Regions from separate parts of the Homo sapiens genome. Here all the other regions are linked to region 1. Evidence: fine-mapped expression QTL. A gene starts in region 1. Each other region holds a variant in brackets. All regions are shown on one strand. Distances are from middle to middle.

Evidence for each region. PIP is the estimated chance that this variant, and not a neighbour inherited with it, causes the effect.
Region 2: its variant is the best candidate, but not a certain one, in a credible set for the expression of C5orf63 in esophagus muscle (GTEx, PIP 0.85).
Region 3: its variant is the best candidate, but not a certain one, in a credible set for the expression of C5orf63 in hypothalamus (GTEx, PIP 0.51).
Region 4: its variant is the best candidate, but not a certain one, in a credible set for the expression of C5orf63 in whole blood (TOPMed, PIP 0.83).

The regions. Positions count from the first base shown.
Region 1 is chr5:127,068,820-127,076,928 of GRCh38, reverse strand. C5orf63 (chromosome 5 open reading frame 63) reads left to right here and starts at 3,427. Exons shown (of 5, transcript NM_001164478.2): 1 at 3,427-3,478; 2 at 5,244-5,345. RefSeq lists an enhancer at 1-145 and a silencer at 3,351-3,570.
Region 2 is chr5:126,952,036-126,960,144 of GRCh38, reverse strand. The region is part of intron 1 of MARCHF3 (membrane associated ring-CH-type finger 3); the gene reads left to right. Among named protein-coding and RNA genes, the nearest start is that of MARCHF3, 74 kb to the left of the region's middle. The variant C/T (reference allele first, on the strand shown) is at 3,543.
Region 3 is chr5:126,974,537-126,982,645 of GRCh38, reverse strand. The region is part of intron 1 of MARCHF3 (membrane associated ring-CH-type finger 3); the gene reads left to right. Among named protein-coding and RNA genes, the nearest start is that of MARCHF3, 52 kb to the left of the region's middle. The variant A/G (reference allele first, on the strand shown) is at 4,871.
Region 4 is chr5:126,847,576-126,855,684 of GRCh38, reverse strand. No RefSeq gene overlaps it. Among named protein-coding and RNA genes, the nearest start is that of LMNB1, 74 kb to the right of the region's middle. RefSeq lists an enhancer at 7,522-8,109. The variant C/T (reference allele first, on the strand shown) is at 4,420.

The DNA.
Region 1 (8,109 bases):
TCATTTCCTGCAGAGTTTGCAGACCTGAGGATGGGCGACTCATGAGATAAATATGCTCACTATAAAGTCCAGAAATACACCAGGAAAGAAAACCTACCAAGTTTCTGAATACCTCCACCAAAACAATCGCATCACCTAATTGTGGCAATTACTGAGACTGTCCCTCCTAGTCAAAGTTCAAATTGCACGTTCTTTGAGTGGCAACACACAGCCAAATTACTGTAAAACAGAGCTGGCATGACAGTCACTACTTGCCAAGACATACATTATTTTTCTAAGGCATTCTGAAGGGAACATATTGACATCAAAGCCCACTTCTTTATTCCTGCCAGAGGCAAAGCTAAGAGGACAGGAGTGAAGATGCCTCCCTCCACACCCACACAGGCCACCTTTCAGAGGCCTTAAGAGGGAAGCCTGGCTCCAGGTCATCTCTGGAAGAATAGGTCATGTGTCCTCTAAAGTACCTTTGGAGTTATGTCAGGAGTTACAGATCAGACTGTGACAGCAGGCTTTCTCTACACCAGGCTTCTGCCTCAGAGATGACCATTGAAAAACTCAACCCAGTTGAGTTCTGAACATTCTAGCACACAGATATCCCTGCATCAGTCCTATCCAGATTGGTAGCGCATAGCCTAGAATTGCAGTCCAGACCTAGAGGAGGACATGCAAGTCAAATGCCTAATGACAAGCATGTTATTTTGTTTGTTTGTTCATTTTTTTGTTTTGTTTTGTTTTGGAGACGTAGTTTCGCTCTTGTTGCCCAGGATGGAGTCTCAGCTCACTGCAACCTCCGCTTCCCGGGTTCAAGCAATTCTCCAGCCTCAACCTCCTGAATAGCTGGGACTACAGGTGCCCACTACCACACCCAGCTAATTTTTGTATTTTTAGTAGAGAAAGGGTTTCACCACATTGGCCAGGATGGTCTCGAACTCCTGACCTCAGGTAATCCGCCCACCTCGGCCTCCCAAATGGTGGGATTACAGGTGTGAGCCATCATGCCCGGCGACAAGCATGTTTTGAATGAACAAAATTGTACAAGATCCAGAACTGTCTTAAGGCCTTCATATTCTTAAAACACTCACATCATTTGAAACATATTAAAAGGTATATACATTTCACACTTAATAATTTTTCTATAAAAGGATTTTTAAAATTTTGCTTGTGAAATTATGTGGCTAAAAGTTAAAATATAATTTCTCTACACTCATCACATATACTCAGGAACTCTCACTTGGTGAGAGCATCTCATCTAAAAATTGTTTTCCAATGTAATGAAGTTGTTATAAATGCTAAACCCATCCATTAATGAAGCTGACACAGTGTTCAATTTTGTGATCATTTAATAAATGTTCATTAATTTTGCTATGAGTGTCCTTTTTTTTCTTTTTTGGTTTTGTAGACATTTTTCCTGGCCAGACTCCAGATATTTTCCCAAGCAGAGCTCCCTTCCCCAGCACTGTAGGCCCTGGACCTAGAGGCTAAACTGGTCCTCTGAGCTCATGGCAGTCAGCCAGGCACTCCCAAAGAGGGTATCAACCATAGTGAGTTCTCAGGGATTCCTAGACATTCGACAGGACTCCCTCTAACCAAAACAATAATGTGGAGGCTCCAGGTCTTCCGCTATCACTTACAAACCCAAGAAATTCTTACTGATTAAACTCAAATTCTGAAAATTTATGAACTTTTGGCTCCTTAGAGAAATTTACTCATAACCAGTGCTAAAAGCCTTCATTGTTGGCCTTGGTTGAATCCATTCTTTTCCTTCAGTGGGTGAAATCAGGTTTCATAAGTCCAAGTGATTTTATAAACCTTTGTTTTCCAACAATAAATAAGATTTGGAAGCTGATCTGGAGTTACATTTCTAGTAAGCTTTTCTGTCACTCCACAATATCTAAGATACTCATGCCCCACCAAGGTGTTTATAACTAGATCCCAGATTCCTTCTTTAAAGGTATCCTATCAGCAACTGTTAGGTGGACTGTGCTTTATCAATTGACTTTTTTTTTTCCAGAAAAACTAAGTCTTATCAGAGTGCATCAACTCAAAAATAACTATAGGTAGTCTGTTGACAGTCACAAAATTCCCTCTTTAGCCTATCAGAAAATGCTGAAGTGACAAAGAACTTGTAAATTCTACTATCTTAATGTGGCCTCTAGCGACATCACATAATCAGTGTGGTTTGTTTAAAGAATTCATTCCTGACCTTGGTTTGCTTTGTATCTTTTTTAAAACCACTGAGTACACATTGAATTTATAGTGGTAAGCTTAAGGCGTCAGACAGCATGAGATGGAATTCCAAATCTACCGTTTTGTAACTGTGAGAACTTGAGCAAGTTATTAAACCTCCATTACTTCATCTGTAAAATGGTACTAGTAATACTTAATTGCATTGTTCTCAGGATTAAACAGACTAATGAGTATAAAGCTTTTGGTGAGCAATCAATAAATGTTAGCTTTGAGTATTACTATAATTATTATCCATCATTTTCTCATTATTTACTGTACCACCATTCAAGCCACCACACCTAGAACCTGGAATGCTCAGTAGCTTCCTCACCTCCCTGCTTGTTCTACTCTTGCCTATCCTAAACCCTTCCCATCTACTTCCCAAAGCTAAGGGGTCCTTTCAGAAGGGAAAAGCAATCAGTTCAATCCCCTTCCCACATAAAACAGAAATGCCCCCCGGCTACCCTTAGCACAAACCTGAAAGGCCCTGCATGGCCAGACTCTCGCTTACCCTCTCTAGCCTGTTTCCACCTCTCTTCCCCATTCCCTCTAAGTCTCAGCCATACTCGTCAGTCTTCCGCATACAACCCATACTGCACATCCTCCACCAGACCCTTCCCCCAGCCTGCAGAGCTCTGTCCCCAACCCACGCCCTTCAGATCCCAGCCCCAAAGCTACCTCTTCAACGAGATCCCACTCAGGTCTTTTCTCATATTCCTTCCCTGCAAAGCACTTAGCTGAATAAACCCATGGCCTATTTAATAAGGGATAATTTCCTAATATCTGCTTTCTCACACGATTTTCAGTTTGCGGGAGGGTACGGCTGCCAGTTTTGCTCATCGCATTCCCCATAACCTAGTTCAGCCAAGACCTAGTGGAGGAGGCAGTAAATATTAAATTAACGAAAGAATGGATGCATGCAGAGCGGTTAAAATGGCTCGGACTCCGCAGCCTCAAAAAGTTGGCTCCCGCACCTGAGGCCTCTTATTAAATGGTTCCCAAACATGCGGGGTCACTTTTCCGTATTTTGTTTTTTAGTTTGGCCTTGGTTTGTGTGTCACTCTTCACGAGTAAAGGTTCAGGCGCGGCCACCCTTGAGAGCGTAGACGGGACACCACCTGAGATAGAACGCCCAGCGGCAGTGCTGCCGGCGTGGGGCGGAAGTGCGGGGCCTGGGGCCGGCGCCTGGTGGGTGCGGGCGGAAGTGCCCGGCGCAGGGCGGAAGCAGAGGCGTTGGCGGCGTGAGGCTCAGGTGGGTTCCCTTAGTCCCGCGCCGAGGGTGAGCGCTCGCGGGTCTCCGCCTCTGAGCTGACGCGCAGGCTGGCGGGGGTTCGCTGTGCCGCGTGCTGCCCATTTGGATAGTCGTTATACGGAATTTAATTAAACCGGGAGCCATAAATCCATGAACTACTTGGGGGAGATTATAAACGCGTGTGTGTGTGTCTGTGATAGCGCTCTGGGAAGTAAATAAATGACGGGCGGGAAAAGGAAGCTTTTTTTTTTTTTAAGAGAAAGCAGAAAACATCTCGAGAAAGCAGAAAACATCTCAACTTCATACTCCTCCAGTGATTCGCCGATGCCCCGTCCCGGGTTTAATTGAATTCTATGAAGTGGTAGTGTAATCACACTTGGGAGCCCGCTGAGCTGACTGCCTTTTTAAATAAATATTTTTGAGCAGCCATGTTGACCTTTAATTGGGGTGAAAAGGTTGAAAGGTGCAGCAGGGAACATTGTGAGTGCCGGGGCTCTCTGGATGAGCTGTCTGGATCTCCTCTCAGCCTTATTGGGCAAAAGCAGCCCTCTGGGTACTGAACAATGAGAGAATAAATCAGAAACTGTACATTCTCAACAGATATTCACTTCTGACAAATAGCAGCTCATACAGTTTTTTAATAAGTCCAAGGGTAGAAAAGTCCCCACTAAAATGTCATTGTGAGTTAGGCTTGTGACTGTTTCTAAGGCTGTCTTTCACAGGGAATGTTTTGCTTGGGTGATCTTTATTCTTGTTTATTAATAAATAGTGTATATGTGGTACTTTATATTTTAGTGCCCTTAAAAAAAAAATCCATAGTATGGCCTTAGCTTGACCCCAAGATTCTCAATTCCTCAAGGACAGAGATGGTGTCTAAGATCTGTTATATCCCAATACTTTCTAGCGCATTTCCCAGAATTAGTATACATTGTCTTGTTTAAGCAGCCACTAGAGCTATGCCTTGGTGCACAATGCTGAACAAGTTGAGGTGTCTATTAGAGGTCGCAGTCTTCTCATTTGGTCATATTCTGAGGACTAGCTTATAAAAATGCATGTGAAGCTCTCTACCAATATTTGGAGCTGTATACATTGGGGTGCATTATAGGTAATTAGAAAGATTTAAAACACGGGGAAAAAAGATACACCCTGGAAATATTGGATAATTATGATAATACTGGGGCAAAGCAGAACTAATCATGGTTCTGTGTGAAATATCGTAGCCCAATAACCTGCGTCCTGCTCTGCTGAGGAATTGCCTGGAACCAGAAAGACCCTGTTGTGAAAATTAAGATTGGTGGGGCTGGTGCTTTAAACAGGCAGGATCCTCAGATTGTCTTTCTTCCCTCCTGCTCTGGCAGCAGTAGCCACATGCCAAGGAAGGATCAATATTTTTTTGTCTCCTTCATCAGAGGAATATGTGGCTGTGTGGTTTTATTTAGATGGACTGTTGGCAGGTAAGTAATAGAAATGAGGATTTTTCCAACTTGGGAGTTGATTGGACTGTGTTTCTATTTTGTTCCAGATGCCTGGCTCTAAAGTACTCAGAGGCACTATGAGAAATCCCTTTAAAATAGGTTATTTTTTATTATTAAAGTTTTTTTATTTCATAACTTGTATATACTCTAGCTGGCTGATGTATTCAGTTACTCTAATGCTAGGCCTTGGGGTTTCAAACATAGCAGGACCTTGAGGTGATCTGGTACAAGTAGCGAGGTGTTTTTATGTTCCTTATTTAAATCTAATTTTTGCTACTGCTTTATTCAAGGACTGTACATCAGAGGAAGCCAAAAGCCAGCTGGAATACTTCCTGAATACAGTTTTAATCTTGTTTGCAATTATTTCGAAGGGGAGAAATCATCTGGATCAGGTATGTGTAGCTACACAGCAGGGACTAGGTGAGCTTCCTCTATCCTTCCCCTAGTATTGCATAACAAATTCTAGGGACAAAATCATTTGGGGAAGAATATGCAAATGAAAAGTTTTGGCTAAGTTTATCTTAGACATGATTCCACATCCCTAACTTCCCATCCCAGTACAGCCACGGAGAACAGGAAACATGAAAATGTTACTCTCTTTTTATTCCAATCCTTACCAAAGTTAAAGTTCCTAGATATGGAGGCAAACTGAAAGAACCTACCTACTATTTTTAGAAAGTATCCATCTCCAAGGATTTCAGACCATTTCACCAGTAATATCTAGTAACAGCCTTTTTACTGTTGTAGCCTTCATCACTGTGGTATTGTGTTATTTGTTTGTGAGTCTTTCTCCTGCTCAAGGTGTGAGTTTCTTAAGGGCAGTGACAATATCTTAATCACTTTTATATTTCTAATACATGGCACAGCACCTGGCACATTGCAAATGCTCAGTACAAGCTATAGAAATGAAAAGATAGTGTCCCTGAAGGGAGGTTGGATCTATAAAAAGTATAAAACATTGAGAATGTAACAAGATACTGAAAAGAATATAAAGCAGTCACCTCCTTTCAGGTTGTTACTAGAGACAGAAGTAATGCTTTAATAAACAGCTTGGAGCAGGGAAGAGTGTATTTGGGAATACATTAGATGCTCCTCAAACTGCCTTCCAAGGAGATCTGGCCTGGTCAGTTGTGGGTCCTTTGTTGTTTAGAATATGCAAGCTAAAAGCTTCCACCAGTCCTGTCTCCACACTTTCTCCAGGCCTGCCATGCAACGCCTCACCCAAACACCTGTTTAGCAAATATTTGAAGAGTATCTGTTTGAAAGTGTGCCAAATTATTAGCTTATGTAGGGCACCAGTATCTTGGTTTGGTCTTGCCTTAAGGATAGAGGACCTCTGTAGAGTCACTATCTTAAGTCTGGTCACTATTTTAAGTCTAGGTTGCCCAAATAATATTGAAGGAAATCCACACTTGTCTTTTCTACTTTACTAACAACATTTCAAAGGAGTTCAAAGTTGACAGCTTTTTGTGTTGTAATAGGACAGTGGTGGTATATGCTGCTGCCTTCTGTTGCCAATGGGATTGCAGCAGAAATCGCATTGTTACAACTGGAAACAAATGAATTTCCTCTCATTGTTCCAGTGCTTTTTCATGTTAATCATGAAATAATGGGGAAATGATTTTTAGTCAGGAGGGAAGGACATGACGTTGAATTATTTGATTTTTTTAAAACTCTTTGTTTCTTAAAACACATAGTCCTTCCATCCAGTGAAGAAAAATGATTCTATTATTTAATAGAAAACTCAGTAAATTCAGCCATTTCTCCAGGTTCAAAAATGAAATGGATGTGAATCTTTTTAGATTTAGAGAACAGAGCCTAATTCTTATGGTAAAAGAATTCTACTGTCTGAAACTGAGACTTTCCTCATTCTCTCCATCCTTAAATTAAGCCTTATACAAAATGAAGTGTCTGTTAATTGGTATACTCTGAGGATTAATATGAAAAGTGTTTTGCGATTTTTTGGGAAGAAAGAGGATTGAACTTGGAGATGCCTTCTAGTTCTGAAATTCTGTGTTGATCTCATTATATATAAAAATATGCCATTGTTCCAGGAGAAAATACAGAGAAATGAACTAAAAAATATAGTATGAAAGACTTTAAGCATTAGTTTCCTTATACATAAAGCAAGGGGAATCTCCAAAGTCACTTCCAGTTCCAAAACATTAAAAAAATTCTATCAATGATAGCTATTAAAAAACAGAATAGGACTCAAAAGATTGTAGAATCCCACATAACTGAGGGATGCCACAGCCTAATGTCAAGCAAGAGTGGATGGCTCCCAACATTCAGATTGAAGACTGTATTTCTACAGGCCTGGGTCTTACTGTTATCACAAGTCCAGGGAAATGCTGGATTTAGCAACTCAATGTCCAAAGTCACTTGCTACAAAATGGCAAGCAATGAATGAAACATCTTTTAGGTTTTGTGGGGGCACAAAGATAACTTTATCTCTTTGACAAGATAAATTGAAAGTGGGTGGAATTTTAGGGACAAAGAGAAGACATTGCCTGGGTGGATGGTTTTTGAATTGCAAACAGTTGTTTTTGGAAATGGGATTATGTGCTTTTTAAATAGCAGGGAAACTTGCATTACTAGCTGGGTACAATAAGACTAAGATGTTTAATGAAATTGCCTTCTTTCTAGGTCAGTATTAAGTATAAGAGATATCGTCAAAGGGAATGGGTCATGTTGGTTAAGAAGGATAATGTGGAAAGGAGCCTGCCTAATTCCTTATATACTTTTTTCCCATCCCTTGAACTAGAATGATTTTGCCCTCATCTTAATGCTATCTTTATGGAATGAAGGAATTTTCAAATTGGTTTTTAAACTCTATTAAGGCCTCATGTATGATATAACCCAACCACATTATTCAGGTTTTCTTGGCTTTCAGGAACAGCTTTGCAGCCATTATGTCATAATTGAACCGAGCATTGTTGCACACTCTGAATTTGGAATATGCTGCTCTGGCTCCAGGCCAGTTGCTGAGTCAGTATCTTTGGAGTTGAGGATGGAGGGGAGGGGTGTAGTGTGTGCAAACCCCATTGTGTTAACAGGAATTAGTCCAGAATTCCCTTTGGACTCTTGGGAACTAGAGGGGGTATATGGTGAGCGTACATTACTGTTCTTGATTGGCATCATTATTTTATTTTCTTA
Region 2 (8,109 bases), 120 kb after region 1:
CGTTCTTGCTGGATTTACTCCAAGATGGGTTGAAACCAGGCTGGATCAAACCGTTGTATGGACCGTTGGAAAGATAATTAGCAGGGAATATCACACAGCTTGACTTCATAGCATTCTAAAACTCTAACTCAAACCCCTCCTGCTGCAATTTATGCCCATTTCTTCTTGCGGTTTTCTCAGAGGAGCTCTTAGAGCATAACTGAGTGCCTTCGGTGGAACTATAACTAACTAATAACCTAGGAGACAAAGGTACATTGGTAATTAGTAGAGGAAGTGCTGCTGGTCGGAATACCAAGCAATGCTTACTGTCTATTAGTTACTGAGTTGTTTTCCATGGAGGTATAGTAATTACGGCTTTAAGAACATTCAAAAATTATTGGCCGTGATCATTTAAGGTGTGATTATTTTCTAAATAAACTCTTTTTTAGAACAGTTTTGTAGTGACAGGAAAAAATTGCTAAGATATTACAGGGATTTTCCCTATTCCTTGCACCTTCTTTCCCCTATTATTAATGTCTTACATTAGTGTGGTATATTTGTCAGAACAAAGGACCAAGATTGATGCATTATTATGATATTAGCTAAAGTCCATACATCATTCATATTTACTTAGATTTTACCTAACATTCTTTTTGTGTTTCAGGATCCCATCCAGGAGCCTATGATACATTTAGTTTTCATTGCCTCCTTGGACTCCTCTTGGCTGGGATAGTTTCTCAGACTTTCTTTGTTTTTGATGACCTAGATAGTTTTGAGAAATGCTGGTCAGCTATTTTGTAAAAAGTCCCTTTTTTGGGACTGTTTGGGATTTGTTTGCTGTTTTTCACATAAATAGACTGGGATTATGGATTTAAGGGAGGAAGCCCATAGAAGTAAAGGGCTATTTTTCATCACATCATATCAAGGAAACATACTACCAACATGCCCTATCACTGTTGATGTTGACCTTGATCACCTGGCTGAGGTAGCGTTTGTCAGGTTTCTTCATAGTAAAATTATTCCTTCCCCCTTTCCATACTATAGCCTTTGGAAGAGATGGCCTATACTCAAGGAATAGGGAGTTACGCTCCACTTCCTTATGGTCAGTGTTGGTCAGTGTCCACATAAATTATTTGGATTTCATCTGCACAAGAGATTTGTCTTTTCTCCCCCTTCCCCTTTATTTATTCAATCATTTATTTAAAGCAGTGTGGACTAATGGGTATTCATTTTATACTTTGGCAATAATATAATACTTCACTTATTTCGTTACTTAGATTGTTCCACTGTTGGTCATTAGTGGTAGCTCATTCACTTGGATCCTATGTTGCTTTAAAATAGCCCCATCATTGTGGAGTTAGGTTTGTTTTAATTGCACATTACACTTAAAAATCAGTCAAATGGCCGTTGTCAACTTGTCTCCTCTGTGTGCCAGGAATCAATCAATTTCTATTCAAGTAAACAAGTGGCATTTTTAAAAAAAAAGTCACATTTGATTATTAACTAGAAGAATATTCAGTACCCTTGATCTGTCTTCTATATACTTCCCAGTCCTGACACCCTTTTTGGATTCAAAGATTAATTAATTTAAAGGCAGTGATGAGCAGATTAGATCAGAAGTAACTAGGGACCTAGAATGGAATATGAAGAATTAGATCATGAAAAAGAAAAAATACAGAATACAAAAGCAGTGGGCTTTTAGAAGTTTAAGAAAATTGAACTCTGTAAAGAAAAAGCTTTAATTCAAGAAAAAGTAAGCAAGCTAGACCATTTATTAAACTAATATACATCTTAATATAATCACTTGTCTTGGCCAGAGAAACAATATAGAGGACGGTTAATGGTAAACTGGAAGCACCTTATTAAAATCAAGTAACCTTATTAAAATGTAAAACAAGACAAAGATATTCCCTGTCATCATGATCATTCAGTATTATTCTGGAAGCTACTGCCCATCTAAGAAACAGAAAGCAGAGAAAAGGAGGAGAAAGATAGCCATGATTTGTATGTTATATTTCTGTTTACCTAGAAACTTAAAAGAATCAACACAAAGTAATAAATAAAAATTTGATAATAAAAATCTGTATACAAAATAAAACTAAAATCAATAGCTTTCCCGTGTATGGGCAATAAGTAGTTATAACATGTAATGGGAAATGTCCCATTTACAAGAGTATAAAATATTCAGTAATAAATCTATATTTGGAAAACTAAAATACTGAGCAAAATAAAAGAAAATTTGAATAAATACTATGTTCCTAGATGAGAAAACTAAATATTTGCAAGACACAATTCTTTCTATATTATTGTTCAGCTTAAATACATTTTTAACAAGGTAACAATTTTAGATGATGATTTTAAAAATATCAGGAAGGATAAACAACAGAAATGATGAGTAAAATCTGAGCACAGTAATGTTGGGAATCTTCCTCTACCAGTTATTAAAAATGAATTATAAGTCTATAATAATTTTTAAATGTGATGTTTTACAAAAATAGATTAATGAAGCAGAATCTAGGAACAGATTCAAGTATGTATAAGAATTTACTACAGATAAAGATGACATATAAATAAAGAAGTTATCAAAAATAAGATTGATCCAATTGAGAAACCATTGGGAGAAAATGAAAGTTACTTTTTAACATCATGCAATACACCAAAATAAATTACAAATGGATTGAAGGTTTTATGAAATCATAAAGCTATAGAAAAATCTAGGATGAGTATTTATCTGCACTTGGAAGTACAGGAATGATGGAAGAGACTGCAGAAAAAATGATTGATAGGTTTAACTTCTAAAGCTTATGTGTCAAATAGCCTGTAAACAAAATTAGAAGACAAATAACTGAATGTTTTTAAAGTTAAACATATGTGACAAAAGGTTACTATCTTTAATATATACATGGAATTCTTAAGCACCACTAATAAAAAGGCAAAAAATATAACTCAATAGGAAAGTAAGGAAAAGACATGAATAGACAAATAAAAAAGACTAAATACTATGGCCAAGAAACGTGATAAAGTTTTAAAGGAATATTTATTACTTAATGTATATTTACTAAAATGTTTATGTCAAAAAAAACTCTAATAAAAGAATACCATTCTTAGCCGGGCACAGTGGCACCATGGCATGTGCCCATAGTCCCAGCTACTCAGGAGGCTGAGGTGGGAGGATCACCTGAAGCCAGCAGGTCCAGGCCAACCTGGGCAACATAGTGAGACCCCATATTTTAAAAAGAAAGAAACACCGTTCTTAACCTGCCAATTCAAAGAGATGTTTTAAATGATAAAACCTAGTCATGACAAAGATTTGGTGAAATGGGCAGTTTCGTTCAACTACTGATGAAAGTAAAATGTTCACAGAAAATGGAAACTTTTAGTGAGGAAGGCATTAGTGGAAAGTGGATTGGGATGCAGGTTAAGATCTGAGTTCAAGCTTTCTGGGTTTTTTTTTGTTATTGTTTGTTTTTTTGTTTTTGTTGTTGTTTTTTTGGTTTTTTTTTTTTTTTTTTTTTTTTTTGGAGACAGAGCCTCACTCTGTTGCCCAGGCTGGAGTACAGTGG[C/T]GCAATCTTGGCTCACTGCAACTTCCACCTCCCAGGTTCAAGTGATTCCCCTGCCTCAGCCTCCCAAGTAGCTGGGATTACAGGTGCCCGCCACCACACCTGGCTAATTTTGTTTTTTTGTATTTTTAGTAGAGACAGAGTTTCACTGTATTTTCAGGCTGGTCTCGAACTCCTGGGCTCAAGCTATTTGCATTCCTTGGCCTCCCAAAGTGCTGAGATTACAGGCGTGAGCCACCATGCCTGGACCTAGTTCAAGCTTTCTAATTGTCTTGCTGTGTAAACCTGAATGGGAAATATAAGATCTCTGCATCTTTGTTTCTTCATTTATAAACAAAGAGGCTTGGTTTAAAAATATCTTCAGGGTAACTGAAGACAAAAGAAATCGTTAGGTTGCGGTACAGATGGACAATTTGAGGACTAGAAGAAAACTGTTTAAAAACAGGTTCTGACAAAAATCTGAGACCTATTCATTTTAACAGTGTAGAAACTCCGAAAACAATCTCCAAAATGTATGTGGGAATTTGGCATAGAGTAGACAAGGCATTAAAAATAAGTGGGAAAAGAAAGGATTATTTAATAAGTGATTTAGTTCTCTTCATGAAAAAGAAAGGTAGATTAATGTCTCATCCCATACAAATGGATAATTTTAAATGTATTAAGGGCCTGAGTGAAAAATAAAACTTTAAAATTATTAGAAAGAAATGCAGGCAAATATCTTTATGACTGTGGGGAAGAGATTATTTCTCAGTCGGTACACAAAAAAGGACAATTCATAAAGGAAAGATTACACTAAGAAGTAAAACTATTTTATGCAAAAGCCTCTATGAGTAAAGCTAAAAGACAAACTCTGAACTGGAAAAATATTTTTTCAACACATAAAGCAGAAAAAAACGTTTCAGACTATATAGTCAGAGAATCCTTACAAATCAGTATAAAAAAGACGGACAACTTACTACAGAAATGGGTTGCAAAGGATACCCTCAGGCAATACACAGAGGAGCGGATTTAAAGAACCAATAAACATAAGAGATGCTGACCTTACTAACAATTAGGAGAAATGCTGGCTGAAACAAAAACTACCCTTTCTCGCCCTTCATAATGGCAAAAATAAAGAAACATGACTGTCCAAATATTGGGCCGGATGAACGAAACTGGGCATGTAGTGTGGTACACCACTTTGGAAAGCAAGTTGGCAATACCTGCTAAAATTTGAAATGTGGTCCATAACCAAGCAGTTTTACCACAACAAATATTTCCCAAAGAAGCACTTGCAACAGAAGCCCTGTACAAGGATGTTCACTGAAGCATTTTTTTTGTCATGATGAGACCTAATGTCTCTTAATGGAGAGATGAAAATAAATTAGAGTATGTTCATATTTTGTTTCCTTCATTGCTGTGCTCCCAGCCACCGGAACATTTCTTGGAACATTGCTGATGCACATAAATATTTGTTGAATGAATGAATATGGTGGAACCCACATAACAGTTGAAAATGAATAAATTAGATCCATATGTATCAACATGGATAGATTTCAGAAACAGCGTTGGGCGAACAAAGTGACTTTAGAGTATGGATGTTATGGTACAATTTTAATATGCATAAAATGATACTATATGCTGTTTATAGATGCCTATGTGTAGTAAAAATATTAAAATGTACTGAAAAACACAAAAATTATAATGCCAGTTGCCTCTGGGAAGGGAAAGGAAGGCAGGATTTCTCTAGGAAAGAGAAAGAGGAAAGGAGAAGAAGGAGGGTAGGCATTGGGAAACAGGAGACTTAAGTTTACCTCTGTGGCCTTATTTCTTTTAATAAGAAAATTCATCTGAAGTACAAATGACAAAATGTAAACTTTTTTTAAAATTCTGAGTTGTAAATGCATGAGTGCGCTCTATTTATTAAACTTAAAAAAAAAAAAAAAAAGAAACTGGGGCCAGGCATGGTGGGTCACGCCTGTAATCCCAGCAATTCAGGAGGCTGAAGTGGGAGAATCACTTGAGTGCAGAAGTTTGAGACCAGCCTGGGCAACATAGGGAGACCCCTCTCTACAAAAAAATTTAAAAATTAGCTGGGCATGGTGGCACATACCTGCAGTCCTACCTATCCAGGAAGCTGAGGCAGAGGGATTGCTTGAATGCAGGAGTTGGAGGCTGCAGTGACCCATGGCCATGCCGCTGCACTCCAGTCTCAAAGACAGAACGAGACCCTGTCTCAAAAAAAAAAAAATTGTATCCATAAAATTAGAAGAGGTTAGGCCGGGCACGGTGGCTCACGCCTGTAATCTCAGCACTTTGGGAGGCCGAGGCGGGCGGATCACGAGGTCAGGAGATCAAGACCATCCTGGCTAACACGGTGAAACCTCGTCTCTACTGAAAATACAAAAAAAAAAAAAAAAAAAAAAATTAGCCGGGCGTGTTGGCAGGCGCCTGTAGTCCCAGCTACTCGGGAGGGTGAGGCAGGAGAATGGCGTGAAGCCAGGAGGCGGAGCTTGCAGTGAGCGGAGATTGCGCCTGGGCGACAGGGTGAGACTCCGTCTCAAAAAAATAAAAATAGAAATAAAAATAAAAATTAGAAGAGGTTACTACATAAATGGGAGTAAGTAATAAAAGAGTGGAAATTAAAAATATGATGGATTATATTAAAAATTCATTTACTAGGTTTAAAATAAAGTCAAGTAAATCTCCTAGACCATTGAACGAAAAGATAAAAAGGTAGAATATACAAGAGAAGATTTAATGGGCATAGACATCCAATCCTAGAAGTCCAACATCTGATTAATGAGAGCGTCAGAAAGAGCAGACAAAGGGGGAGGAACAAGCAATTAAAGAGATAATAGAACATTTCCCAGAGTGGAGGAAAGGCAAGAGCCTTCAGATTAAAAGGCAACTCCTTATGAAATTTTGAACACAAAAGATAAAGATGTGATGCTAATAGTATTCAGAGGGAGAAAAAGTTACTTACAAAGAAGTAAGAATCAGAGTGGCATTTTACTTCCATATTGTATAGCAATATGACATTAAAAGAATTACTTCAAATTTCTGAGGGAAATTTTTTGAACCTAGAACTTACGTACCATTGAGCCATTCATCAATATAAAAGCAGAATAAAGATTTTTGGAAATCCTTTGGAATCAAAGATTGTGATTTTTTTTTTGGAGAATGTTCTCTAACAAAGAAAACAGGGAACCCAAAAGAGAGAAAGAATGTTATTCAAGCAAATATTCATCCTAATCTCACAGAATACAATTTTTAAAAATCCTAGGGTAGTGGCAGGTTTAGAAAACAGTATGTGTGAATTACAACATGAAGTTTGAAAGCAATAGGAAGCATGTCTTCAAGAAGAACATGGATTTTCTGCCATGATTTGATTAAACAGTTCAATGAAATTAAAGTGAAATAATATGCTGTTTTTGTCAACAAGAAAAAAAGGCAATTAGAACTGCCTGGAAAAAACAAAAACCTTCATAAGAAATCTGTAGTGCAACTATAAAACAAATGAAAATGTTTTGATTTTGAGCAGCTTGTGGAATATACTAAAATAAAAACAGACTTGACCTTGAGGTTTGGAACATTTTCCCTCAAGCAACACCATTAAGAGACTTTGCATCTCCTTCTCTCAGGGTACAATTACACTACTTGGTTCTGAAGCAAATAATATCTATAGAATCATAATATTGAAATGTTCTTTGTTTTCATTTTCTGGAATTTATTTCTAGAGAATCTGTGGAAGACAATTAAGATTATAGGCAATTCGCGTTATAAACCTTAAGAATGCAAAATTAATTATATGGCTAAGAGGATTTGGGTAATAGAAGAAGGAGGAACAATGGAGGGAAGTGAAATAGGGCCAGTTTCCCCAACTGAAGTAATTGGGGGTGGTTAAGATACTGTCCCAAGTTGATGGATTAAGAAATAAACGTTTAGGCATATTATTTAAAGTTATAAAGATAGCAAAGGCCTTAAAAGTAAAAAAATAAAAATAAAAATAACAAAACGTGGGGAAAGGAGGGAACAATGGTAAAAAGCTAAGTTTCTATTAATTTTAAATTTCGTAAAGGACAGGAAGTTAATAGATACTACTTAAAATTGATAAATCAAGAGGAGATAAAAGCACCACCAGAAGAACTAAAATCAAGAATTGTTACAAGAGGTTACCAGGACTAGGTATAGTGTATAAAATGGAAATGTTAAGCCTCCATTTATACCACCCTTTAATGAGTGAATTTGCATTATTATGAGAATATACTACCTTTATAAATTTTGAAAGAGAGATTTTTAAAATGTAAGGTTTCCTCTGTCTCTTGCTCATTCTCCCTCCCCTCCCCCTAATAAAAAGAGTCTAGCTAGAAAAAATGCAAGTTTGCTGTCGAAGCTGGTTGTTTTGTAACTTGTGTATCCTTCTTACAGGGTAGTGGGCCTAGATTACAGTTGTACCAAAACTCAAAACCCTACTGAGGGCTGGGCATGATGGCTCACATCTGTAGTCCCAGCACTTTGGGAGGCCAAGGTGATCAGATCACCTGTGGTCAGGAGTTCGAGACCAGCCTGATCAACATGGTGAAACCCT
Region 3 (8,109 bases), 94 kb after region 1:
TCTTCTGATGTGAAAGCCCTTGCTTGTCCTACTACCCCTTGCTACTGTGGCCATCTAGTAGATCCTAGGACTGTGCATTAGGTCATCTGGGACTCTGAAAATAATTAAGTCAGACTCTCTGCAGATGGGGCCCAGACTGCCTTGGGAAGAGCTGCAAAGCAGGTCAGCTTCCCCTCCAGTAGTGTTGGGACAGCCTCCCTCACTGTCAGTCATCCCGGGGCCCACTGTGGGTCTAAGCAGAATCACCAGCTCCCTTGCTGTTCCTTCCCCATCCCTGCCATCAAGACAGAGCCATTTGCTGCTGTCCATCCATGTTATGGCTCAAGGGTTCAGACATGGTATAGGGAAGATGGGAGCAGGGAAAGACATGAACTGCTGTGCTGTGTGACAAGGCCAGGGGTGTCACTGAGGATGCAACAGGAAGCAGGCAGGCAGGTGAGAGAAGCTGGGGAGGCGGGAGATAGAGAGTTATTCTAGCACAGCAGTGAATGAATTCAGTTTGAATGAAGCACAGAAGTAAATGTTTGGACAGCGGAACCAGGTTTCATGATCTTTGAGTTGTCCTCATAACATGTTGGAACTAGGTATTGAAAAGTCTGAGGTAATCTGAAGCTTAGAAAGGCACAATCTATCAAGTTAACTTAAAGGAAAGGAAGGTGTTAACAAAATTAGAAAGTGCTGTTTTAGAAACAGCCCTAGATATTTTCCAAAAAAGCCTTGGGAATATTCCAGTATAGGAATTCTAAATACCATAGTAGTCAAGTAATGTGTTCTTCTGGTAAAATTAAAAAGAGCATGCCTGGCAGCATATGAAGAACTAAATTTCACCCTGAACATAATATTTGATATTATCCTACTTCGGTACTCTGTTACTGTTGGCTTAGGTATTTGATGTAATATTTTCCTTTGTTGTTTAAGAAAAAAGGTTGGACAATTCTCAATTTGCTGGTATAGTGAGAGGGAAATTTTGTGCATGCACAAGCATAAATCTCTCTTCAAACTAAACATGTATGTAACACCTTCACTTTGAAGAGAACACTGTGTTTAGTATTTCCCAAAGCCTTGCAAAGTACATTAATATCCTACAACCATTTCTCTAATGTATTTAAAGAAAGTAAGACTCAAGGAAGTTATCTCCAAACACACTTACATCTGGAGTAGGAACAAATTCTTAAAGGTCTCAGAAGACTCGTCTTACTAAGTTAGGCTTTTCATGGCTTCCTCCATCAAAGCCTCTGAGGTTGTGTGGTCCAAAAAGCAGGCCAAGAGCCCAAGATGCTCATGGATTGGATTAGTTGATCCCTGAATGGATGAAAGTTTACTCGATGTTTTGCACAGCCTTGCTTGAGTAAAAGGGGAGGTAGAGTCCCCCTACTAGGAGAGGTTCCATTATTCTGAGAAGCTTTTCTTCCTCACTGGACAGTGACTATCCAGAGATGCCTAGGAAGCAGTCATTCATTGTTTATTGCTGGAGGCCAACTTGCTGCCCATCAGAAGTATATGTAATGTAAGAGGGAAAAGGCAGGCTGTAGATTTTTCTGCAAGTTCAACAGAGTGCTGCACACTAACAATCAGTTTGAAGAAAGCTGAAGTCGTGTGTCAGTGCTCACCAGGCTGATTCTTTGTGCAGCACAAAGATTGAATGGTGGCTTAAGGAAGGTATACACATACAACTGCTCTTGACTTTCAGTCTGGGGCCATGGATGGAATATTGGAAATCCACAGATAGTCTAAAAACAATTTTAACATCTCTGTCCACCACTTCCCTCACTAAACCTTGTTATAGAGATGCTAACAAACAAAAACTTAAAATACTAATCTTACCTCTCCTTCATGCCTATAGTATGCCACACTGGGCAGAAGATGGTTCTGGATGTTCCCCAGATGAAACTAAGTTTGCAAACTGGTGGCCCACAGGCCCACCTAACCATAGATGTGTTTTATTTGGCCTGTGCTGGGGTTTTAAAAAATATTTGAGGCCAGGCGTGGTGGCTCACACCTGTAATCCCAGCACTTTGGGAGGCTGGGGCGGGCAGATCATGAGGTCAGGAGATTGAGACGATCCTGGCCAATATGGTGAAACCCTGTCTCTACTAAAATACAAAAAATTAGCCGAGCCTGGTGGTGCGCACCTGTAGTCCCAGCTATTCAGGAGGCTGAGGCAGGGGAATCACTTGAACCCGGGAGGCAGAGATTGCAGTGAGCCAAGATTGCGCCACTGCACTCCAGCCTGGCAACAGAGTGAGACTCCATCTCAAAAAAAAAAAAAAGGAATGAATCATCAACATCTCAAACTCAAGAGATTCTACATAAAATCTGTGTTTCTGGCTTCTCTTAAAATTCTAAAGATCTAGTCACCCTGGGCCAAGGAGTGGCTATTCCCTTCATAATGGATTAGGGCTCCCACATGGCTGCCCCAGTTCACATTCACACCCAGCCCACTTGTCACTTCCAGGATCTACTAGTCTCTGCAGGCATTTGAGTTTGGCATCCCCAACAGAGAAGGTGCGCAGAAGAGGAAAGATTTTGCTTTCCTTATAGATGTTCGTGGTGACATCTCTGTGTCAGTAAGAAGTTTGATCCACTAATGAGCAAGATTGTTATACACAAGAGTTCTGGAATCAGAGACAGGTGAAATAGGCTCAATTAGTATACAGGATTTCACTTTCATTTCTTTTTTTTTTTTTTTTTTTTTTTGAGATGGAGTTTGGCTCTTGTTGCCCAGGCTGGAGTGCAATGGTGCAATCTCGGCTCACCTCAACCTCCACCTCCCGGGTTCAAGCGGTTCTCCTGCCTCAGCCTCCCGAGTAGCTGGGATTACAGGCATGCACCACCAAACCTGACTAATTTTGTATTTTTAGTAGAGACAGGGTTTCTCCATGTTGGTCAGGCTGGTCTCAAACTCCTGATCTCAGGTGATCTGCCCGCCTCAGCCTCTCAGAGTGCTGGGATTACAGGCGTGAGCCACTGCGCCTGGCCTCACTTTCATTTCTAATAAGGAATAAAGACCATTTCAAAATTAGAAAACTCTAAGGAAAAACACACTTAAATGGAGGACAGGTAACCTGAGTTCCTGATGCAGCTGCCCTGCCCCCATGCTGATACCTAGTGTCTTTACCTACATAATGGAAAGTGTTAACCATCATTCAGCATTCATTCCCTTAACAAGATTTATATAGAGTGGTTGACATCGAGGGTTTACAGTCTTCCCAAAATGGATCTGCATTTAAGACTTCGTTTTCCTCACCTATCAAATAAGGAATGAAATCACAAACACCTCAGTGTGTGACATACTCTGAATACCCAGTTATTGTGAGCTCTTATTATTTGTTAAGTACCAGATGTTTGCCAAGCTTTGTGCTAGACCTTAGAAATACAAAAACACAGAAACATGTGGTCCATGTCCTAAAGAGCCGCAGTCTGGTTGAGGAAGTAAATTCTGGGCTAACAAGTAGAGTCAGCAACCTAAACAAAAGCCCCTCAGAATGACTGTACTGTTGAAACATAAATAGGACTGATAAAGCCCCAGGTTATTACAACATCATATTAAATTAAGGAAAGTCCGTGTGCAACACCTACCTTGAGAAATAAACATGTATATACATATCTAAATATGATAGAGGTAACAAAAGTTTTCAATAATAGGATTTTTCTTAGGGGAGTTCCACATCAGACTTCTAAATCCAAGGTTCTTGACATCTGGAGTGGAGTCTTCCCATTGATAGTTCAGCCAGAGCCCTTGCTCCAGAAAATGTATGTACACAATAGTTTGCATAACATTCCAGGGATCTGAGAGCCCCAGAAGCCCATCCATGAGGCCTGCTCCATGTAGTTCCTCACTGGGCTGGTCACACAGTACATAAAAGCAGTGGCTCCAAAAGAGGTGCTCAGTTACAGAAGAGAGAGAGCCGCTCATAGAAACAGTCAGGGCAGTTCTGTGTGAGAGCAAAAAGCCGAGTTGCATAGAGGTCCAGTGGGCAGTGAGGGGAATGTTGAATGAAGAAAACGTCTTTTTTCTTTTCTTAGATAATGCTGATATGCCTGTAACAACTAATGTAGTCAGAACGAGTACTTCATATATCTGTCACATGTTTAATTGTGGACACTCTGACATCTTATCTTCTCTCCTGTGATCCTTTCACCTTTTTCATAAATCTCTGTTATCTAGGTATGAAAAGAAACCTTAGTATCTACTAAGCCAAAACATCCTTTCACATAGGGTTGATCTGGCTTTTTGTTCTTTTTCCCCCACTCTTTCCCTATTCTTCAACATTCCATTCCCAATATGTCCAGAACTAATTCTGCATGGGACCTAATTATCGGTTGGTGACCCGAATGGGGCTGGTCACTCTGGGCAGTCTCTCTCTCCTTGGCCCTTTCTGGCCTTTAGGTCACATGTAGTACTTTATCAGTTCCCTCCAAAATAAATCCAGCTGCAAAAGTATTGGAAAATAAGGTAGGTTTTACTGAGGGTTTTGGGGGTAGAGTGAAAAGAAAACTCACCACGTGAAGACAAAACATCACAAGATTCCCAACATACAATACTCAACTGCCAAAGCCTTTCTCTTGGGGGCCAGCCCCTCATCTTTCCTCGGCTCTACCTGCCTTCCCCACACTCTTGCTCTGTACTTGTGCTAATTCAGAGAATATAGCTCCCTCAGCTTCTCCAATTTTGCTTTCTCATATCTGTTAGTTACTTAATACTGCCTTGAATTATGAGAAAGCCTCTATGCTAAGGATGACAATTTTTGTTTGTACCCCTAATCACAAATGTCTTTGTGTTTTACTTAATACATTGAAGGCATCCTTGATGTTAGGACATGTATATTAATCTTGCATTTCGGAATGGCCGAATAGTGTTGCCTTGTAT[A/G]CATGCAACATGCTGTGTTTAGCCATTCCTGTACACTTACCTTATTTCTTTTTCTTTTTTCTATTATAAACAAGCTGCAATCAAACATATATTGCACACTTATATGAGTATGACTGTAGGATAAATTTCTGGAATTGATATTTCTGTGTCATGAATATATGCATTGTAATATTTAGTAGTTATTGCTCTCTAGAAATTTATCTTCCAAGCAACGGTGTGAAAGAGATCTGTTTCAGTTTTCCATAAAACCCCATTTTTATGTTTGTTTACCTTATTTTATGTTTGCCGATTCCTTGATTTAGGAAGGGCTTAAGGTGGCTGGCAAGGAAATATACATTAGAGGTAGATGGGTTGGGGGTAGAAGTGAAAAATGAAAGGTAAGAATATAAAATGGACCAGTGATTAAGATTATTATAAAAATTCATTCAGGTTTATTCTATGCCCTAGGTGACCTTCAGGTTTGGTGCTAAGCTTTCCAGCAGCCAAGGCAAAGAGGGGAGTCAATTATATAAGCCACTACTAAAACAAAGCTGTGCCTTGGGGTCCTTATAAAAATGAAAAAGGACTTTGTACAGGGCAACAGTAACTTCAGCAGCATGACTTCATGTGATCCCCTCAGCACCTCTGTATCTGCTATTTACCTCGGACCCAAAACATGTTGCCCTAGAGCAGAGCTCTGCCTTCAGTCATGTACGTGCTGATTATGTTGGGTGGACAGCAGTCTGGCCAAAACTGATAAAACCTGTGCCTCCAAATGTGGCCTGATAGCAGGGCATTAAGAGCAGGCATCACCTCTCATATACATAGACCTTCCTTTCTCTTCAAAGCTCCTAGGAATTGTCTTGGAGGATGGGACCAAGAAGCAAACCCAGGATCGGTGGATGTAAACCAGATCAGGAAAGCATCACTGTGGGGGCATTTCCAGGCAGGATGTGTGGGCTGCCTGCCACGTGAGCAGGTGGAGGGCCCAATGGGGCTCTCCCTGCTGCCAGGATCGGGGCGAGGATTCCCAGAGGGAGAGAGAGCCAGGTGCCATGTGTGCAACTGCAGATGCCAGAGTGGGCTCCTGAAGGAAATTGTGTCATTTCAGCTCCTGACCTCAGAAACAGGAGATAGGAGAAAGCCATGGTGACCTCAGCTGGGTGGGGAGACAACTAATCAGCCACCCCAGGTCTGAGGTGGCCCCAAGGCAGGTCAAGGATGTGAAGAGGTCTAGATAGATAGAAAGGAAATACAGAGGCTCAGCTTTTGGAAACCACACAGGGGCTGAGTGCCCCAGTAGAGGGTCAGATAGTTCTGCAAGGAAGCCAGGGTAGCCCAAAGCAGAGGCAATGAACCTGGAGACCAAGTAGCAGAGGAGCTGAAAGAGAGTTTGACTTGTACCTAGATTTGAAACCAGAGTAAGCTAACAAGAAGACAGAATGATTCCTAGGTTCAGGGCTGGCAAAATGCAAAGTGAAATTGATCGAGTCATGTAAGATTTTGTGTCCAAACTCCACTGGGCTGTGGATAATTTTACCCTCAAGGTCCTCCACACTGTAGTATGGACACCCAGGTGTGTCCCATAGAGGACATAACAAAAATGTATCTTAACTGGGAAAAAAAGATTAACAAAAAGAATGAAGATGTGCCTCAGCTGCATGAATATAGAAGGAGAAAGATCCCTCTATGTCATTCCCTGGGTGATAGCAGGAGAACATTATCCTAAGTAGGAAAAAAAGACAGTGGAAACCTGGTTGAAGGAGCTTTTTTGCACATCACCCTGGGGAGCCACAAAAGAGAGACAGGAACAAAAGAACAGCTGCAAAGGGAGTGAAAGAAACCCAAAGAGGCATTGGCACAGGCCTACTGGGAATATGATATGGCAAAGAGAGAAAATGAGGTCTGTTTTCTAGTTAGAGAAGATTGATCTATTCAAAGGACTTTAAATTTTGTTGATTCACTTTGGGTGCATCCATGTGAAGGTTTGAGTTTTGAATCATCATGATTTTTAGCCAGTAAAAGTGTTCTGGGTTTTAGCTTCACCCACATGGACCTCAACTCGCTATTTAGAAGTCTACTGCCCTTCAGGTGGGTTGCCAACAGACTCTGCCTTTGCTGTACCTGGGAGAATGGCTTCCTCATCACCACATTCTGCATCCTTCCAAGATGGCAGTGAAGATCTTCCCAGGGCATCTGGCATTAGCAGAATGCGGCTGATGAGGAAATATGACCCCAGTTTAGGCCGTTTTACCAGAATATTACACAAATTACAAAATAACTTGATAGCTAGAAGAGAGGATTTTGAATGTTTTTACTACAAAGAAATGATTAATGTTTGAGGTGGTGGATTTGTTAATTACCCTGATTTGATCCTTGTACAATGTATATCAAACATCTCATTGTACACCAGAAATATGTATAATTTTGTGTCAATTAAAAAGAGAAGAAAACTTAATAAAAAAATTTTTTTCAACTATATATGTGAACACATGAAAATGTAATAGTAAAATTTCATTGTTACAATATTATATCCCACTTCAGCCAGGCCCAGTGGCTCACACCTGTAATCCCAGCACTTTGGGAGGCCAAGGCAGGCAGATCACAAGGTCAAGAGATTGAGACCATCCTGGCCAACATGGTGAAACCCTGTCTCTACTAAAAATACAAAAATTAGCTGGGTGTGGTGGCATGCGCCTATAGTCCCAGCTACTCGGGAGGCTGAGGCAGGAGAATCACTTGAACCTGGGAGGCGGAGGTTGCAGTGAGCTGAGATTGCACCACTGCACTCCAGTGTGGTGACAGAGCGAGACTCCATCTCAATAAATAAATAAATTTTGAAAAAAAGAATGTTATATCCCACTTTAAATATAGATTTCAGAATGAATGGTAGCCAGATTACTTCAGCTGTCACATGTAACTTACATAGCTTCTCATTAAGACTTTTAAGTCACAGATAAAATTAATTTATTGGAATAAAGTAATGCTCAAAGCATGACTGAACATGTAAAAACTTAATAAGAAGCAGAGTTTAGGTTACAGAAAGAGATGTACTTTCTTATTGTCTGAGTAAACACAGTCTCCGTAACTTGTGTGTGGTGATCTGAAATCTTGGTCAAGATTCCCTGAAATCCACTTTTAAATGAGTTCATCTGACAAACAGTGCTAGAAAGGCCCTACCTTTGATCAACGCAATGATTTTGATTTCAGAACCTCCAACTGAGGTTCCTAATCATTCCTTTGGTAACAGAGAGTTTTGA
Region 4 (8,109 bases), 220 kb after region 1:
GGAGCCTATAGCTCATAGGCTGTAGGCTCAAGGTTGGTCATTTTACATAGAGATGTTAAGTATATGAAATCAAACATGATCAGAGTAGTACAGTAAGGCAATGGGCTGACTGTGCAGTAATTGTAGATAGGGGAAGGGAAGCAGAGGTCAGAGAAGAGGCCTCAGGCTCAGTGCCAAGAATGATGCTTTTGGTCACGGACAAAAGGGCTTCAGAGCATCCCGTTAAAAAAGAAAACCCACATCCTGCTGAGATTGGAGGCGGCCGATAAGGCTGTCGCCCATCTGACAGTGCTACAGTGATGGAGGCATCCCACCACACTCTAGAAACAAAAAGAAGACAAATGTCAACAGATGCCTCGATTCTGCTATCATCAAGTGTGCGTGTGCACATGGCTTGGTTTGAGGCAGGGGATGCGGGTTCCATGATGAGAGGGATGATTCTCATTAGCTTGTTCTCGATGCTGTCTTTGTGCGCCACAAGGTTAATACAGGAAATATGAAAGGCGCTCAGACTGCCAGGAGCAGCTGCTCGTGGGTAGGTCAGCCCTGAGCAAACCTTCCTTAGGTCCAGACCATGACTGTCCTGCCAATTGTTCATAGTGAGAGGTGACAGCGTGCTGGCAGCCCTCGCTCGCTCTTGGCGCCTCCTCGACCTCCGCGCCCACTCTGGCCGCGCTTGAGGAGCCCTTCAGCCTGCCGCTGCACTGTGGGAGCTCCACTCTGGGCTGGCCGAGGCTGGAGCTGGCTCCCTCTGCTTGTGGGGAGGTGTGGAGGGAGAGGCGCCGGTGGGAACCAGGGTTGGGCGCACACTTGCAGGCCAGCGTGAGTTCCGGGTGGGCGTGGGCTCGGCAGGCCCCCGCACTCCGAGCAGCCGGCCTGCGCCCCCAGCCCGGGGGCAGTGAGGGGCTTAGCACCTGGGCCAGCAGCTGCAGAGGGGGGCGCCAGGTCCCCCAGCACAGCCGGCCTGCCCGTGCCATGCTCAAATTCTCGACGGGCCTCCACTGCCACCCAGCCGGGCAGGGCTGGGGACCTGTAAGCAGCCATGCCCTACCCCCCGCCCCCCCCCCCCCCCCCGGCCCCTGCACTAGGCTCCCGCTCAGCCTGAGCCTCCCGGACGGGTGCCGCCCCCTGGTAGGAGGCACCAGGTCCCATCAACCACCCAAGGCCTGAGGAGTGCAGGCGCACGGTGTGGTACTGGCGGGCAGCTCCCCCAGCAGCCCTGGCACCGCAACCACTAGGCAAAGCCAGCTGGGCTCCTGAGTCAGGTGGGGACTTGGAGATCTTTTATGTCTAGCTAGAGGATTGTAAATGCACCAATCAGCACTCTGTGTCTCGCTAAAGGTTTGTAAATGCACCAATCAGTGCTCTGTGTCTAGCTAATCTAGTGGGGACTTGGAGAACTTTTGTGTCTGGCTCAGGGATTGTAAGCACACCAATCAGCACCCCGTCAAAACAGACCAATCAGCTCTCTGTAAAACAGACCAAACAGCTCTCTGTAAAATGGACCAATCAGCAGGATGTGGGTGGGGCCATATAAGGGAATAAAAGCAGGCTGCCCGAACCAGTAGTGGCAATCAGGTGAGGTCCTCTTTCCTGCCGCGGAGGTTTTTTTTCTTTTGCTCTTTGTAATAAATCTCGCTGCTGCTCGCTTTTTGGGTCTGTACTGCCTTTATGAGCTGTAACACCCAACACGAAGATCTGCAGCTTCACTTCTGAGGCCAGCCAGACCACGAACCCACCGGGAGGAATGAACAACTCCAAGAGCGCAGCCTTAAGAGCTATAACCATTTGCCGCGAAAGTCTGCAGCTTCAGTCCGGAAGCCAGCGAGACCACGAACCCACCAGAAAGAAGAAACTCTGAACACGTCCGAACATCAGAAGGAACAAACTCCAGACACACCATCTTTAAGAACTGTAACACTCACCGCGAGGGTCCGTGGCTTCATTCTTGAAGGCAGTGAGACCAAGAACCCACCAATTTCCGACACAATAGCACCCAAGCATCAACTTCACTCTGGTGGCTGGCGGGGGCCACTAGGAGGGCACATCCTCTGTAATCCATCCCAACGTGGGACATGGAGGGTGGGCTGTGTGTCACAGGGCGGAGCAACGATCTCTGCCACCTGAACGACGAAACAGGAGAAAAGCTTGTGAAACAAAGCCCTCCATGGCCCAGGTGAAGAAAAACATCTAGACAGATGAGCAAAATGGGTTTCCTCTCCTAGCGGAAAACTTACCATTTTAAAAGGTTATTCTGACCCAGAAAATAACGCTCTTGCCCTCCCCCCACCCCCAACACCCCACACACATACATCATGCATGAATACACACTGAAAAACTATGGCACAGACACACAGTCACACGCAGCATTAGAAGAATCCTGGGCCAGGTCAACTCTGTTGTCAGTATCAGCAAGTCTCAAAGTGAGCCCTCTGAAACCCCTGTGATCCCCTCTCCTCCCTCTCCCACACTCGTGATGACAGCTCCTTGTGGCTAAGTTCAGCACCAAGTAAGGAAGAAGTGCCTGCAACAAGCTTGCTTGAGGAGGAAAAACAGTAAGGCGGCAGGTGTCGGAAGCAAGTCACCCCCGGGAAAAGTCAGGGAGAAGTGGCCACATGCCCCTCTGGGGTCAGGATTAGAGCTCAGAAAATGACTCATTTGTCTCTACAACCCCGCAGTAGCGCTTCCAAACATGAGAGGGGGGTCACAAGCCCAGACAGGGTGAATTTGTTATTAAACAAACCAATGGAGGGCAGGCAGCACATATGTTCACGTTTCCTGCCTCTCCCATCTCTTTTTGGAACTGAATGAGCCCCTTCAAACAGCAGGCTTTTGGAATCCTGTCAGTTTCCTCGTTTACCACAGAGACAATATCTGCGCACTAAATAGTTTCCCAACTATAACCCTCCAAAATCAGGCTGGGCGCGGTGGCTCACGCCTGTCATCCCAGCACTTTGGGAGGCGGAAGCAGGTGGATCACTTCAGGTCAGAAGTTCAAGACCAGCCTGGCCAACATGGTGAAACCCCGTCTCTACTGAAAATACAAAAACTAGCCAGGTGTGGTGGCACACACCTGTAATCCCGGGATTACAGGAGGCTGAGGCAGGAGAATCTCTTGAGCCTAGGAGGTGAAGATTGCAGTGAGCTGAGATCGTGCCACAGCACTACAGCCTGGGCAAGAGTGAGACTCTGTCTCAAACAAAACAAAACAAAAAAGTCATTTGCATCAAGTCAGCCACTTCCTGCAGAGTCTGTTGAAGAGCACACACAGAAAAACAAATTGCCTAAGAGCAAGGTACCCTGGAGTACTCCGTTAAGGGGCTGATCTCATTACCGTAGTTTAGGATTCAGGTGCCAAGGATGACAAAATGAACTGCCTTGCTTTATTTCATAATTCAGTGTTTCCCAGCCTTCCACTATTCATTTTGGGAAAGAGTTGTCAAAAACCCATAGTTATTTCTCCCAGCAACCTGGGAGGGGAAGGAAGGAAAGTCACTCAGGCTTAGTCACATGTCTTTCTGGCGTGCCAGAGGCTTTGTCCATTGGGGATACTTCAATCCTCTTTCCCAGCTGAGGCCTTAAACTATTTGTTTAAATGAAAATCTGAAATAAAACTACAGCTGTTATCAAGAACAGGCAGGAGATCCTGTCATCTTGGTTCCATGGATCAAGCAGAGGGCCAGTGTTCAGTGTTTGTGAAGAGCACCGGCGTGATTTTCCAGCAGCGGAGGACAGCCCCAATGCAGTGTGCAGCCCTGTGAGCTGGGGAAGGCAGACAGAGGTTGGCCAACTGGCAGGAGCCAGAAGATTTTCTTCATGTTCGGGTCTCAATGGAAAACTCAGAAGTGACTGCCAAACACGTTCCGGGAATCTTCTCCATTTCCCATTTGAGCGCTGAGCACACGGGGCACCTCCACAGTCACAGTCTTCTTCGGTTTTAAACAACAGGGGCAAAGGTTCCAATGTGACCAACCTGTCACAAGTACTGACAGTATTCACAAATGCCTTCTTCCTGCCAGAAATGCAGAGAGACCCAACCAGGCACCCGGCACCTCCACACGGTGGAGACAAGCCACGTGACTGAGTGTTTAAAGCAAAGAGAAGGGAAATCACAGCATTGAAAAATGATTTGGAACAAACAAGCACGATGGAGGCCACTTCGGGGGAAAGCTGACATTTGTCTAAAATGGAAAAATCCAAACGCACTTTCCAAAGCATCAAGCTGGGAATAGTCATTGTCCCTCATATAATATTCAATTTGCAACAGGAAAAAAGCAGATTTTGCCACTTATTTAAGTGTTGCTTTTACTTGTCCAAACCGGGTAGGTATAGGGTGGAAGAGGATGTGAGTTATGATTCTCCCAGGTGGGGATCTCTCTTTGAAAGCACTAGGCCCTCAAACTCCAAATTAACCAGGCA[C/T]TCCCACTTTCTATCCCAAATCCCATCAGAGCAGGGAGAACCAAGTCTCAGGGAACCTCAGGGGAACTCTGAATTCCATGCAATTGGCTGAGCGACATTCTCGGCACACATAGCCTGCCGTTTCCATGAAAGCACTCTGGACTGACCTGGACCCTTGAGTTCGGGTGCCTGTGAGTACCCAGGACCACTCAGGAACACCAGGGAAACAGACTGAGGCTGCAGGACTGTGGCCCCTCTTTCTCCACTGTTCTGTCTGCAATCAAGTTCTGGCTGGAGTCTAGACGGATTCTTCCAAGGTTAGAGCAAAATGCCCTATCAGGATCACCAGCTGTATCCCTTAGCTAATGCTCTGAGAGATCATGGCCAGTTTTTAATAAGCTCAAATCGTCTTAACGAGAAGTCAAAGAATTTGAACCTCCCCCTTAACGTCCCCAACCTTGGAGCTGTTGTCATGACTGCGGAGGCGAGAACTTCACCTTTGAAACTCAGCCTCCTACCAGACAATTCTTTCCTAATGACCATTTCCCATAAAAGACCAGTGCTCCTGAAGCGTGCCGTGTGGTGCCTGCCTTTTATAACAGCAGTTGACCACAGTTGTTGTTCTACACATCGGTGTGAATATTTGATTGATGCCCCCCACCCCCACCCCAACCAGGGTCAGGCAGAAATTTCTTTTCGCTCACCATTGTATTGCCAGTGCACAGCATGCAACTTAGTAAGTGATTAATCAATGTTTGTTGTGGGCCAGGCACAGTGGCTCATGCCTGTAGTCCCAGCACTTTGGGAGGCCAAGGTGGGCAGATCACTTGAAGTCAGGAGTTAGAGACCAGCCTGGCCAATATGGTGAAACCCCATCTCTACTAGAAATACAAAAATTAGCTGGGAATGGTGGCGCACACCTGTAATCCCAGCTACTTGGGAGGCTGAGACAGGAGAATTGCTTGAACTTGGAAGGCAGAGGCTGTATTGCACTCTAGCCTGGGCAACAGTGAGACTCCGTCTCTCAAAAAAAAAAAAAAAGTTTGTTTAATTAATATTAATATTTATTAATAAAATGAGTAAAATGTGGTGTTTCCAGTGTTCTCAATGGCCTTCCTTGTTTAACCACTCAGTTGACTTAACCCAGGAGAAATGTTAATTCTGACTGGCACTATTTTTGCTAATAGACTTACTTAAGCCAACAATAATTAACAGCCCTGCCATTTTATAACAGGACAGCCTCACCTTACTTCCCATCTTAATTCCCGTGATCAAAAAATTTTAAGTTAATTAGTTTTAAATTCCTATTTCTTTACAACCTACTATATTGGTATGACCATCTTACATGGCCTCATTTATTCCACTATCAACTCTTTGTAACAGGATCTTTAGTTCCAATTTACAGATAAGGAAACTGAGATGCAGGAATGTTAGCTTTTTTAGACTTACATCACTAAGTGACAGCAACTTAGTGTCATTAACTACTTCTCTTATCAAGGGTTTTCCATTCACAGACCTAGTTCAAAGGCAAAAACAATGTGCTGTTTATTCTTTCTACGTGAAGTCTATCTATGGAGAAGACCCATCTATGTGGGAAAGTATAAATTTGGGACATAACCCATGACTATAATTGAATTCTCTATCATTAAAAAATCATTTATTTTATTTCCTTTCCAATCAAAGCTGAATCACCAGTTCCAATAATTCCTGTTATTCACAGCATCCCCACCCTACCCCCATCAGGATAACTTGGATGTACTTGCATACCCTCTGGGTCATTTTCAACACTTCCTAGATACAGTAACACATTGCATCACTGGGGTCCAAACTGCTTTCACCTACTTGCTGGGTGGTGTGTTAGCTTACCTAAAGGTGACTATCCCCCCAAAGGAGAGTTTTAAATCAGAACACTTAACTACCTCCCTGATGTCAGGGAAAGTGCATCCTGAAACAGCCAGTTTAGGAAAGGTCATTCTACCAGGGCTGTGGCTTTCTGCCTTATCTGAGAGCTTACGATGCGATAGTGGGAGGAAGGCAGATTGAGCAAGAGCTGGAGCTGTTCCTGCTCCTAAGTCCATCTTCATACGCTGAGAGGTGCAAATCAGCTAATATACAAGAAAGCATTTTCTAAACCTCACCATGAAAACAATGTTTATTACATTTGCCATTAATTTGAAGAACATTAGAAACAACAGAGATTTTAAATAGGGATTTGGGGATTATCCGACAGTTGGAATTGTTCCCATTCATTTCAACAATTAATAGCACCGTTTTCATTAGTAAACTGGCTATGTTATTTTTTTTTTTGACAGCTCCCTGGGATAGCAGAATAGGCATAGTCATCAAGGATAATAGAACTGTGATCACACTGAGTTCCTCAAGAAAAGAACTGGCTGTCTCATCTTGGTATTCTTGATGCCTTGCTCAGTAGCGCCTGGCAAAACTAAATCTCCCAGTGAATGGTTGGTGAAGGAATGAACAAGTGAATAAATGACAACCTGTGGGCCTGTTATCCCATCTACAAAACAAGGACAATACTAATAATGCAGTATTGTGAGCTGTAAGGTAATGTTTGATGTGACAACTCAAGCATGAGTGAACATTCAATAAATGTTTGCCCCCTTTCCTTTCACCCTGCTTCCTCTTGATGGGTCTTATGCTGCTTTTCTGCCTTCCTATGTGAGAGTGAAAGTGTCCCGTGTGTCAGAGACCAACACGTGCTGGTGTGTACTCCCCACATGTCAGAGCAGCACTGCGTTTCCAGACCCTGCCCCTGTCGGTTTCTCCCAGTGGGGTCCCCAGTGTTCCCCAGCTGTAAGGTCCGGTAAGGGCCCAGCTTCAGGTCCCCTCTGGGATTTCTGGTATAAGGTCTGCCTGAGTGACCCAAAGCATTCACCTCTAGCACCCACGCCCTTCTTTCTCCAGGGAAGGACCCCTCCCAGAAGGATTGTAATAATACGCATTACTTTTCCTGGTAATGAAATGCAACATGTCTCGGGATAGAACCCAGGCTCACTATTTCTTTTATGACATAATATGAATGTTTGCAGATCTTGATTTTTTTTTTCCGAGTTCAAATTTCATAACAATTTTCCTCTTAGCAAGACAAAAATTTTTTAAAGAGAAATGATCTGATTCAGTAGCTGGGAAAACAGTTCATAGGAAAATTCTGTGAAAACCCTATGATCCCAGAAAGAGCTTGGGTTGAGTCCCTTCCTGGCATCTGCTGGTTGGAAGAGGCAGCGTAACAAGGGAGTGAAAGCTGGCAGTGAAGAGGAAGGCTGGGTCATGACCCCAGTCCTAGGAAGAGAATGAACTAACTGCCAGGGTCACAGTCACACTGCTCGCTAAAGGGCAGTGTGAGAGGGAGGCTCCTTGGCCTAAATGTGGACAATGGAGAGAAAATCAGAAGAGAAAAACAAGTGATCTGGGACTGTTTGTGAAACTAGATAAAAAAACAGGTCATCTGAAGATCACTCTCAACCACTGCATTAGGAAGCCAGAGAAACACATTCAGCACAGTCAGACATTTGTGTCCCTCTGGTCACAGTGGACACTTTTAACTAGTACTTGTGGCTAAACTTAAGTCATGGGACTCAGGACTAGAAGGGGCTGTGGAAACATCCGCGTGTATTCAACAGACGAAACCAGACAATTTGAGAATCATTATCCAGACTGAGTCAGGAAACACTGAAGAAAACCTCGCACTAC